2 separate regions of the Homo sapiens genome follow, and region 1 is linked to region 2. The links come from fine-mapping of genetic effects on gene expression. A gene starts in region 2. The other region holds a variant in brackets. All regions are shown on one strand. Distances are between the middles of the regions.

Evidence for each region. PIP is the estimated chance that this variant, and not a neighbour inherited with it, causes the effect. A credible set is the group of variants that fine-mapping cannot tell apart.
Region 1: its variant is the best candidate, but not a certain one, in a credible set for the expression of TMEM44-AS1 in testis (GTEx, PIP 0.57).

Annotation. Positions count from the first base shown.
Region 1 is chr3:194,614,171-194,618,557 of GRCh38, reverse strand. TMEM44 (transmembrane protein 44) reads left to right here. Exons shown (of 10, transcript NM_001011655.3): 6 at 1,289-1,459; 7 at 2,861-2,989. Among named protein-coding and RNA genes, the nearest start is that of TMEM44-AS2, 17 kb to the left of the region's middle. RefSeq lists an enhancer at 704-998. The variant T/G (reference allele first, on the strand shown) is at 2,640.
Region 2 is chr3:194,582,143-194,586,529 of GRCh38, reverse strand. TMEM44-AS1 (TMEM44 antisense RNA 1) reads right to left here and starts at 2,262. Exons shown (of 3, transcript NR_047575.1): 1 at 2,082-2,262. RefSeq lists enhancers at 2,246-2,295, 2,331-2,996 and a silencer at 2,486-2,745.

The DNA of each region.
Region 1 (4,387 bases), 32 kb before region 2:
ACTATATATAATTTAATTTATATAAAACTAAATTATATAAATATAATTTGTATATATATGAACTCATCTAATGAATTATAATTTAGTTTATATATAACTCATCTAATGAGTTTAATATAAACTATTTACAATTTTTATTCATATATATTTAAATATATAAGTATGTAATCAGAAATATATGGTGTTTGTGTATATACATATTCATATATATAGTGACTTTCTGTATATAAAGGCTGCTTACATAGAAATATAAATAGTGCATATTTCCTTTTATTGAACCAATAGTTTTATTACATATTCTCCAGAAATGTCCTCTTGGCTTTAAAATTTCCAGAATATCATCTCTCATTTTTCGGATCTTCCCCATGTGACCTGGGTCAGAATCGGGGTCCCAGGGAGAGAAGGGCCGGGCCTCAGCTCTTCTGATCCGGTCTCTGTGTTAGGCTGTTCTTGCATTGCTCTAAAGGAATGCCTCAGGCCGGGTCACTCATAAGGAAACCAGGTGTAATTGGCTCACGGTTTGGCAGGCTCCCAAGCATGACGCCAGCATCTGCTGGGCTTCTGGGGAGGCCTCAGGGACCTTTTACTCATGGCGGAAGGCAAAGTGTGAGCAGGCAGAGAGAGAGAGAGTGCAAGAGGGTGGAAGGGAAGGTGCCACACACACATTTTTGAACAGCCAGATCTCAGGAGAACTCACTCACTGTCGTGAGGACAGCACCCAGGGTATGGTGCCAGACCATTCATGAGATATCCACCCCATGACCCAACCACCTCCCACCAGGCCCCACCTCCGACACTGGGGATTACGACTCAACATGAGATCTGGCGGGGACAAATGTCCAAACCATCCCAGTCTCCCTCACGTTCTCCCAGCGGACATTGGCGAGCCGCTGCCCAGCGTCAGGTGCTGGGCACTGAGATGGTGAGGACCCCTGCCCAGCCCTCAGGAGCTCTCTGACTGTGTAAAGAGCTGAGTCATGATCAATCAAAGGTACTCCGCTGGAGGGATGCGTTAGGGCCCAGAAAAGGGAGTTGCTTGCTCGCCTTAGGGTGGAGTTGGTAAGGGGAGGTTTCCCAGAGTTAAGTTGAAGCCAGGTTCTGAGGGATGAGTAGGAGTTTGACAGGCAGAAGAAGCAACTCGAGCAAAAGCTGTAAGTCTAACAGAAGCATTGCCCTGGAGGACTGGCTGCAGGCAGAGGGCTTGCCCCGCAACCTGCTGTGCCACTGAGGGCCCTGGGTCTTGTGATCTGCTGCTTCTCCCGCCCAGCCCCTCCCTCTCTCTGCCCAGTGCCGGGGGAAGACATTTCCCTCCATCCACCTGTGGACCCGGCTCCTGTCGGCCCTGGCTGGCCTCCTCTATGCCTCGGCCATTGTGGCCCACGACCAGCACCCTGAGTACCTGCTGCGGGCCACACCCTGGTTCCTGACCTCCCTCGGCCGTGCGGCACTGGACCTCGCTGTATCCACCCCAGGCCTGGGGAGCTCCCTGCTTGCAGCCAGAGGAGGCCTGTGTCTCGTCCTCTCACTGCCCCTGCCCCACCCTTCTTTTCTCTTGCTAGATGGAACTCTCCCAGCAGTAAGGGAGTGGTTTGAAGCTTGGGGCAGGCAAACACAAATGCAATTATTTGTAGTTTTATGTTTCCTTTTTTTGTTTGTTTGTTTTGAGATGGAGTCTCGCTGTGTTGCCCAGGCTGGAGTGCAGTGGCGTGATCTTGGCTCACTGCAACCTTCACCTCCCAATTTCAAGCAATTCTCCTGCCTCAGCCTCCCGAGTAGCTGGGACTACAGGTGCATGCCAACACGTCTGGCTAATTTTTGTTATTTTTAGTGGAGACTAAAAATGTTTGTATTTTTAGATGCTGACTGTGGTTAATGGCTGTGGCGTGTTGGTGGTGGGGTGTGTGTGAAGGCAAGGCAGGGCCACGCCGTCTGCAGGCGCTAAGAGGGGAATCTTCGCTTGCCTCTTCCAGCTGCCAGTGGAGCTGCAGGAGCTGCTAGTGGCTCCTGGTGTCCCTTGATGCATGGCAGTGTCGTTTACATTTCTGCCTTGCCCTTCATGTGGCCTTCTTCCCTTTGTGTATCTTCGTGTGTCTCCTTTTCTTATAGGGACCCCAGCTGTTGGAGTTAGGGCCCAGTCCAATCCACTATGACTTCATTGTCTAATTGTATCAGCAAGGACCCTACTTCCGAATAAGGTCACAGTCTGGGCCGGGCACGGTGGCTCACGACTGTAATCCCAGCACTTTGGGAGGCCAAGATGGGAGGATCATCTGAGATCAGGAGTTTGAGACCAGCCTGGCCAACATGGTGAAACCCGGTCTCTACTAAAAATACGAAAATTACCCGAGCATGATGGCAGGTGCCCGTAATCCCAGCTACTTGGGAGGCTGAGGCGAGAGAATCGCTTGAACCAGGGAGGCAGGGGTTGCAGTGAGCTAAGATCATACCACCGCACTCCAGCCTGGGTGACAGAGCGAGACTCTGTCTCAAAAAAAAAAAGGGGGTCACATTCAGAGGTGGATCTGAATTTTGAGGGACACTATTCAACCCACTGCATGTATTGTCACTGTAAGCCAGGCCTGTCAAGAAAGACGTTTTCCAAAATGCTTTAGTTTTGCAAATATTTACCATGTCCTTGT[T/G]AGGGACAGGGTCACATTGGATGCTGGGCCCTCGTGAGGACAGGAACATCCACCCTAGCCCTGTCTTCAGATGAGCTCCTCTCTGTCCCAGGCAGGATAATACAGGGGAGGGAGGAGAGTAGGTGAGTGGGGAGGGGGGTGGCAGCATGGTGTGGAGGGGTGAAGGGCCACGCTAGGCAGCTGGAATATTCTGCTTCCTACCTTAACTTACACCATCTCAGATTATTTTCCTTTCGTGTGTGATGAAGAGCAAGATGAGACAGGCCTTAGGATTTGCCAAGGAAGCCAGAGAGAGCCCTGACACCCAAGCCCTTTTGACCTGTGCAGAGAAAGAGGAAGAAAACCAGGAGGTGAGGAACGAGGACAAGGTCTCTCTGGCTGGAAAACTCTGGTCCCAGCAACAGTATCTTGAGAAACAGCAGGATACTGCGGACGGACGTGTGAAAGCTGCCTGCCGAGTGTTCTCTGCAGGCGACTCAGACAGCTGTCCTGTCTCGCTGAGGGAATAGTGGCCAAACCTAACACATGACATGTAACGGGCCCTTCCTGTTTACTGGCATGGAGTGGACGGGGCATTGAGCCTCCATGAGGGCCGGGGCTTGGGAATTCCAGAAGTCCCTCCCTGCTTGCCCAGTTGGTCGCTTTATTTTTATTTTTTTTTAATCTATTGATTGATTGAGATGGAGTCTTGCTCTGTTGCCCAGGCTGGAGTGCAGTAGCACAATCTCAGCTCACTGCAACCTCCGCCTCCCAGATTCAAGTAATTCTCCTGCCTCAGCCACCCAAGTAGCTGGGATTACAGGCACATGTCACCACGCCCGGCTAATATTTTGTATTTTTAGTAGAGACAGATGGGGTTTCACCATGTTGGCCAGGCTGGTCTCGAACTCCTGACCTCAGGTGATCTGCCCACCTTGGCCTCCCAAAGTGCTGGGATTACAGGCATAAGCCGTGGTGCGTAGCCCAGTTGGTCACTTTAAAAAGCTACTGTCTATGTTCAAAGCTAAGGGAAGCCTGAATGCCATAGGATCCTCCGGTTTCGCAATTATACAAATGTTTTGAAGTTTTTTGGTCACTTAATGGCTTATATTTTTAGCAATGTAGATGGAATAGTCGCATGCCCACTTGAAGCTTTTGAATAATTTACTTACTGGTAGTTAAGTTCACATGCTACATACCTTAATATATTCATTTTTAAATAATGTGATTTTTGGCCGGGTGCAGTGGCTCATGCCTGTAATCCCAGCACTTTGGGTGGCCAAGGCAGGCAGATTGCTTGAGCTCAGGAGCTCAAGACTAGCCTGGGCAACAGGGTGAAACCCCGTCTCTACCAAAAATACAAAAAAAATTGGCCGGGTATGGTGGTGTGTGCCTGTAGTCCCAGCTACTTAGGAGGCTGAGGCAGGAGGATCTCTTGATCCTGGAGGCAGAGGTTGCAGTGAGCCAAGATGGCGCCACCGCACTACAACCTGAGCTGCAGAGTGAGACCCCATCTCAAAAACATAAGTAAATTATGTGATTTTCACTCATATTTCTTCAAAAACTGTATTCCCACTTTCACATGCATCTTTAATATCCACATCATTACCACCACCTAACACGGTGCTCCAGAGCCTGTCGTCATGCCCAGCTACATGATCCAGCCTTTGGAAATCGGCTTGTGATGCTGCCTCTAGAAAGTCCTCTCAAGCCACGAGGACCCATTTGCTGTTTGTGGTCACTGCAATGTAACTACTTACTCTATTCCT
Region 2 (4,387 bases):
CTGAGGCACAAGAATTGCTTGAACCCACGGGGTGGAGGTTGCAGCGAGCTGAGATCGCACTGCTGCACTCCAGGCTGGGCAACATAACAAGACTGTCTCAAAAAACAACAAAAACCTTGCTGACTTTGAGTAACACGAACTACCTAAGGTCCAGATATCATCTATCTCCCTAGATCCTGTTAGCCCAGCCTCCTCCCTTCACAAACTGGTTCCTATCATCACGGTCCCAGCTTGTCTAAGGGTGTCTCCGGCCTCTTCATCCACAGTGAACTACCAAACTGGGAATTTTGGAAGCGAGGTTTGGCTTCATTGTTCAACGAGAATCTTCCTGTATGCAAAGCTCTAGAACACTGGAGCCTTTGTAAGGAGGTGCCAATTAAAATGCCTGTCTCCTAGTAGGAGTGGGCCTCTGTTGCAGCTTTGTTTCTAGCCGTTAGACCAAGAGGGCAGTGGGAGCAACTTGCTCTGATGACCCAGTGAGCAGTGCAGGCACTTTACCTACACTGGGGAGGGGCTGGGGAACAAACTATGTAATCATTGGCTCACTCATCTGGAGACCTGTAGTATCATCTGGTTGTGCCGCCTATCATCTGTGTGGCTTGGAGCATGTCACCTAACCTTTGTGAACTTCTTAGGTAGACTAAGAATAATACCAACCTAGAAAGCCTATGGTGAAGACTAAGTGAACTAACATGTATGAAAATGCAAACATAATACCTATTCAAAGAAGACTTTGGAGAGGGATTAGTTTTCTTTCCCCCCATGCTTCCTGCACACATGTACTGAAAGAGTAACCAAATAATTAGACCTGCAGATGGAAGAGATTTCAGAGGTTTGAATGCCCTTAAACACAACCCCAATTAGTGATTATCCAGTCTCTACTTAAGTTCTCTGAAAAAAAGGATATCAGTTGCCAAGTCTTTATCATTTAGCGAGAGCTCTGCTAAGATGATGATGATGATGATTTTTTTTTTTTTTTTGAGATGGAGTTTCACTCGTTGCCCTGGAGTGCAATGGCACGATCTCACTTCACTGCAACCTCCGCCTCCCAGGTTCAAGCGATTCTCCTGCCTCAGCCTCCCGAGTAGCTGGGATTACAGGCTCCCGCCACCATGCCTGGCTAATTTTTGTATTTTTAGTAGAGACGCTGTTGGCCAGCCTGATCTGGAACTCCTGACCTCAGGTGATCCACCTGCCTCAGCCTCCCAAAGCGCTGGGATTACACGAATGAGCCACCGCACCCAGCTAAAGATTTTCTTGAAAGCCTGTCTAGATCCTGAAGAACTAATCCCCTTATCTCCCTCCCTCAGTATGATGAAGAGATTTATGAGCATCATTTGAAGACACATTCATATTATGTTTCTTTCAAAGGGGTATGAGCTCCTAGAATAAGAAGAGGCACTGGGCCAAGGAGCATGGCTGGGCTCCAGTTCCCAGGTCTGATTCAGTGTGATCTTTGTCATTTCCTTTTCTATGTCACAGTTTCCTCATCTGTAAACTGAAAGTTGGGCCTGATTTTTTTCATTTTTTCTCTTTTATGCATGTGCCAATTTGTTTCCCACAGAATACTGACATCTTTATAAGCTCTCAAGAAAGACATTATAAAAACAAATTTCAGATATACTTTGAACATAGGCTTCATTATACGACATATACCTCTTTCTGTTTGGATTTTACTGTCCACTTAATATAAAAACCTGTATTAATCACTAAGGAAAAGGATAGAGGAGACTTAGAAATATCTCCAGAATAATTTTGCAACAATTCCAAGATTCTCTGCACTTCTTTTTCTGTCCCTTAATTGGCCTCCTCCACATTTTCCAACTATGGAGGTATTGCTCTACTCTCTTCGACTTTACATTGTTTTAGAATGCTTTTGCAAGGAGACTCTGCCTTGAATGAACCCAAGATATGGTGCAATGTTGAGGAAGATCTCCAAGTTTACACATGCCTGTACGATGGCCCAAAGGTCATCATCAGGTGAAAGGGACGACCTTAGAGATGAAAGAAGTTCAAGGAATGGTGCTACATTAAATGACTTAGCATTAGAAAGCATCTACTTTGCTTTTTCTTTCACCAACCCTGAAAGCCAAATAAGGCACTGGGCATTCAGGCCTTCTTTTGAGCAGAACACGTGATTACGCAGTTATTCTTCAAGAGCCTCTGTTAATCTGTCGCTTGGAGAACTCTGCATACTGTCCCAAATCCGTCTGAATTTTCCATCGGCTGCCAGTGTTCGTAGCAGAGGCCTCGGGTCTTCTCGTCCTCTCCTCAGGGTCTGGCAGCTGTCACTACCGTGGACTTCGGTCCAGTCCCCAGAGTCGGGGGCGCTGCCTTTCCCATTTCAGTTGCCAGGGGGTTCATCCACGATCGTGCCAGAGGGGCAGCGCGTGGTCTCCTCGAACTACGGGGGAGAGAGGAACCACTGTTGGCACGGGCCGGACTGAACGCCGGCTCCCACTGCCTACCTCCTCGGAGCTGCATCCGCCGACATCTTGCGCCCTACTCCCAGCACCAGCAGGGCACTTCCGGGAAGAACGGAATTGCGGTTCCGCGCGTGCGCACTCCGCAGCCACCGCCTCCCGCGAGGAGCGAGAGTCCCGCGGCCCCGCCCCGCCGCCGCAGCCGCCGCCGCAGCCGAAGGCCGGCGTTTCTGACCTCAGCCAGCGGCGACGCAGCCGGGAAAGAACTGTCGAGGGCGTCTCCGTAGTTCAGTTTTGGTTTGTTTATTTGAGACGGAGTCTCTGTCGCCCAGGCTGGAATGCAGTGGCGCGGTCTCTGCTGACTGCAGCCTCCGCCTGCCGAATTCAAGCGATTCTTCTGCGACTGAATAGCTGGGACTACAGGGGCGCGCCACGACGCCCGGCTAATTTTTGTATTTTTAGTGGAGACGGAGTTTCACCATGTTGGTCAGGCTGGTCTCGAACTCCTGACCTCGTGATCCGCCCGCCTCGGCCTCCCAAAGTGCTGGGATTACAGGCGTGAGCCACCACGCCTGGCCCACCCCACTCGGTTTTTAAGGAGATAATTACAAGGTTATTTTACGGTTCATAGTGTGTTTCAGACCTCCCAGAAGCCTAACGGTGTATTATAAACCATTCTTTTCTTTGTTTTTAAATGCATTAAAAACCTTTTTTGAGATAAAAATAGTGCAAGTACATGGTTTAAAAAAAGAAAATCAGATTGCACCAAAAGGTTTATGATGAAAAACAATAATGTTCTGTCCCTTTGCCTCCAAGAGACTCCTTTTTAAAATCTTTTGGGCTGGGCGCGGTGGCTCACGCCTGTAATCCCAACACTTTGGGAGGGTGAGGCGGGCGGATCATCTGAGGTCAGGAGTTTGAGATCAGTCTGGCCAACATGGTGAAACCCCGTCCCTACCAAAAATACAAAAAGTAGCCGGGCGTGGTGGTGGGCGCCTGTAGTCTCAGCTACTTGGGAGGCTGAGGCAGGAGAATCGTTTGAACCGGCGAGGCAGAGGCTGCAGTGAGCTGAGACCGCGCCACTGCACTCCAGCCTAGGCAACAGGAGCAAAATTCTGTCTCAAAAAAAAAAAAAACTTTTATACCTTCTAGTAGTTGTCTCCATTAGGTTTGATTTGGAACATGCTTTCCAGCTACAGGGTTCTTAAGATCATACTTGCTTTTCCTGAGCTGCATCATCTTCAGCTTCCATTATACAGGCTGACGAGGCTCAGTAGCACGGCAGGGCCACTGGCGTATTGAGAAATGGATGGTCACCGTCTTCGCATCCGAGGGTTGTGTGGCGTGCCTCGCGCCAGGAACTCCTTGGCCACTCCGCAGTTTCCTAGCTAGAACCCGGCTTCTGAGCCCAGCACGCTCCAACAGCAGCCTGCCGCGGTCCACGCCTCTGCTCCGGACTTGACCTTTCCCTTCCGGCCTTCCTCCTACAGGTGTCTTGGCACCTGGAATCTCCAGAGGAAATCTGAGGGATTCTCTAAACCCACAGCTGGAACAAGGGACGTCATACACGGCGGCCACCACCATCTTTCCCAAGGACAGCATGGCCATGGATGAAAAGGGCCATTTCATGGGCCTTACCTTCTGCTAGCCAGTATAGCCTAAAGCCCTGATACTCAAATGTAGACTCTTAGGCTCCACCCGGAGGATTCCCTAGGTCTGGGCAGGGCTTGGGAAGCTTAGCAGGCTCCTCAGGTGATTCTGCTACAGATGGTCCAGGACCAGTCTCTGAAAAACACTGTCCTCGGGAAATTGCTTTTATGTATTTACTTTTTCCATCTCTTCTTGGTATTTTGTTATCATTTTCAAATACAGAGACGGAGTCTCACTATGATGCCCAGGCTGGTTCCGAACTCCTGGGCTCCAGAGATCCTCCTGCCTTGGTCCCCCAAAGTACTGGGATTACA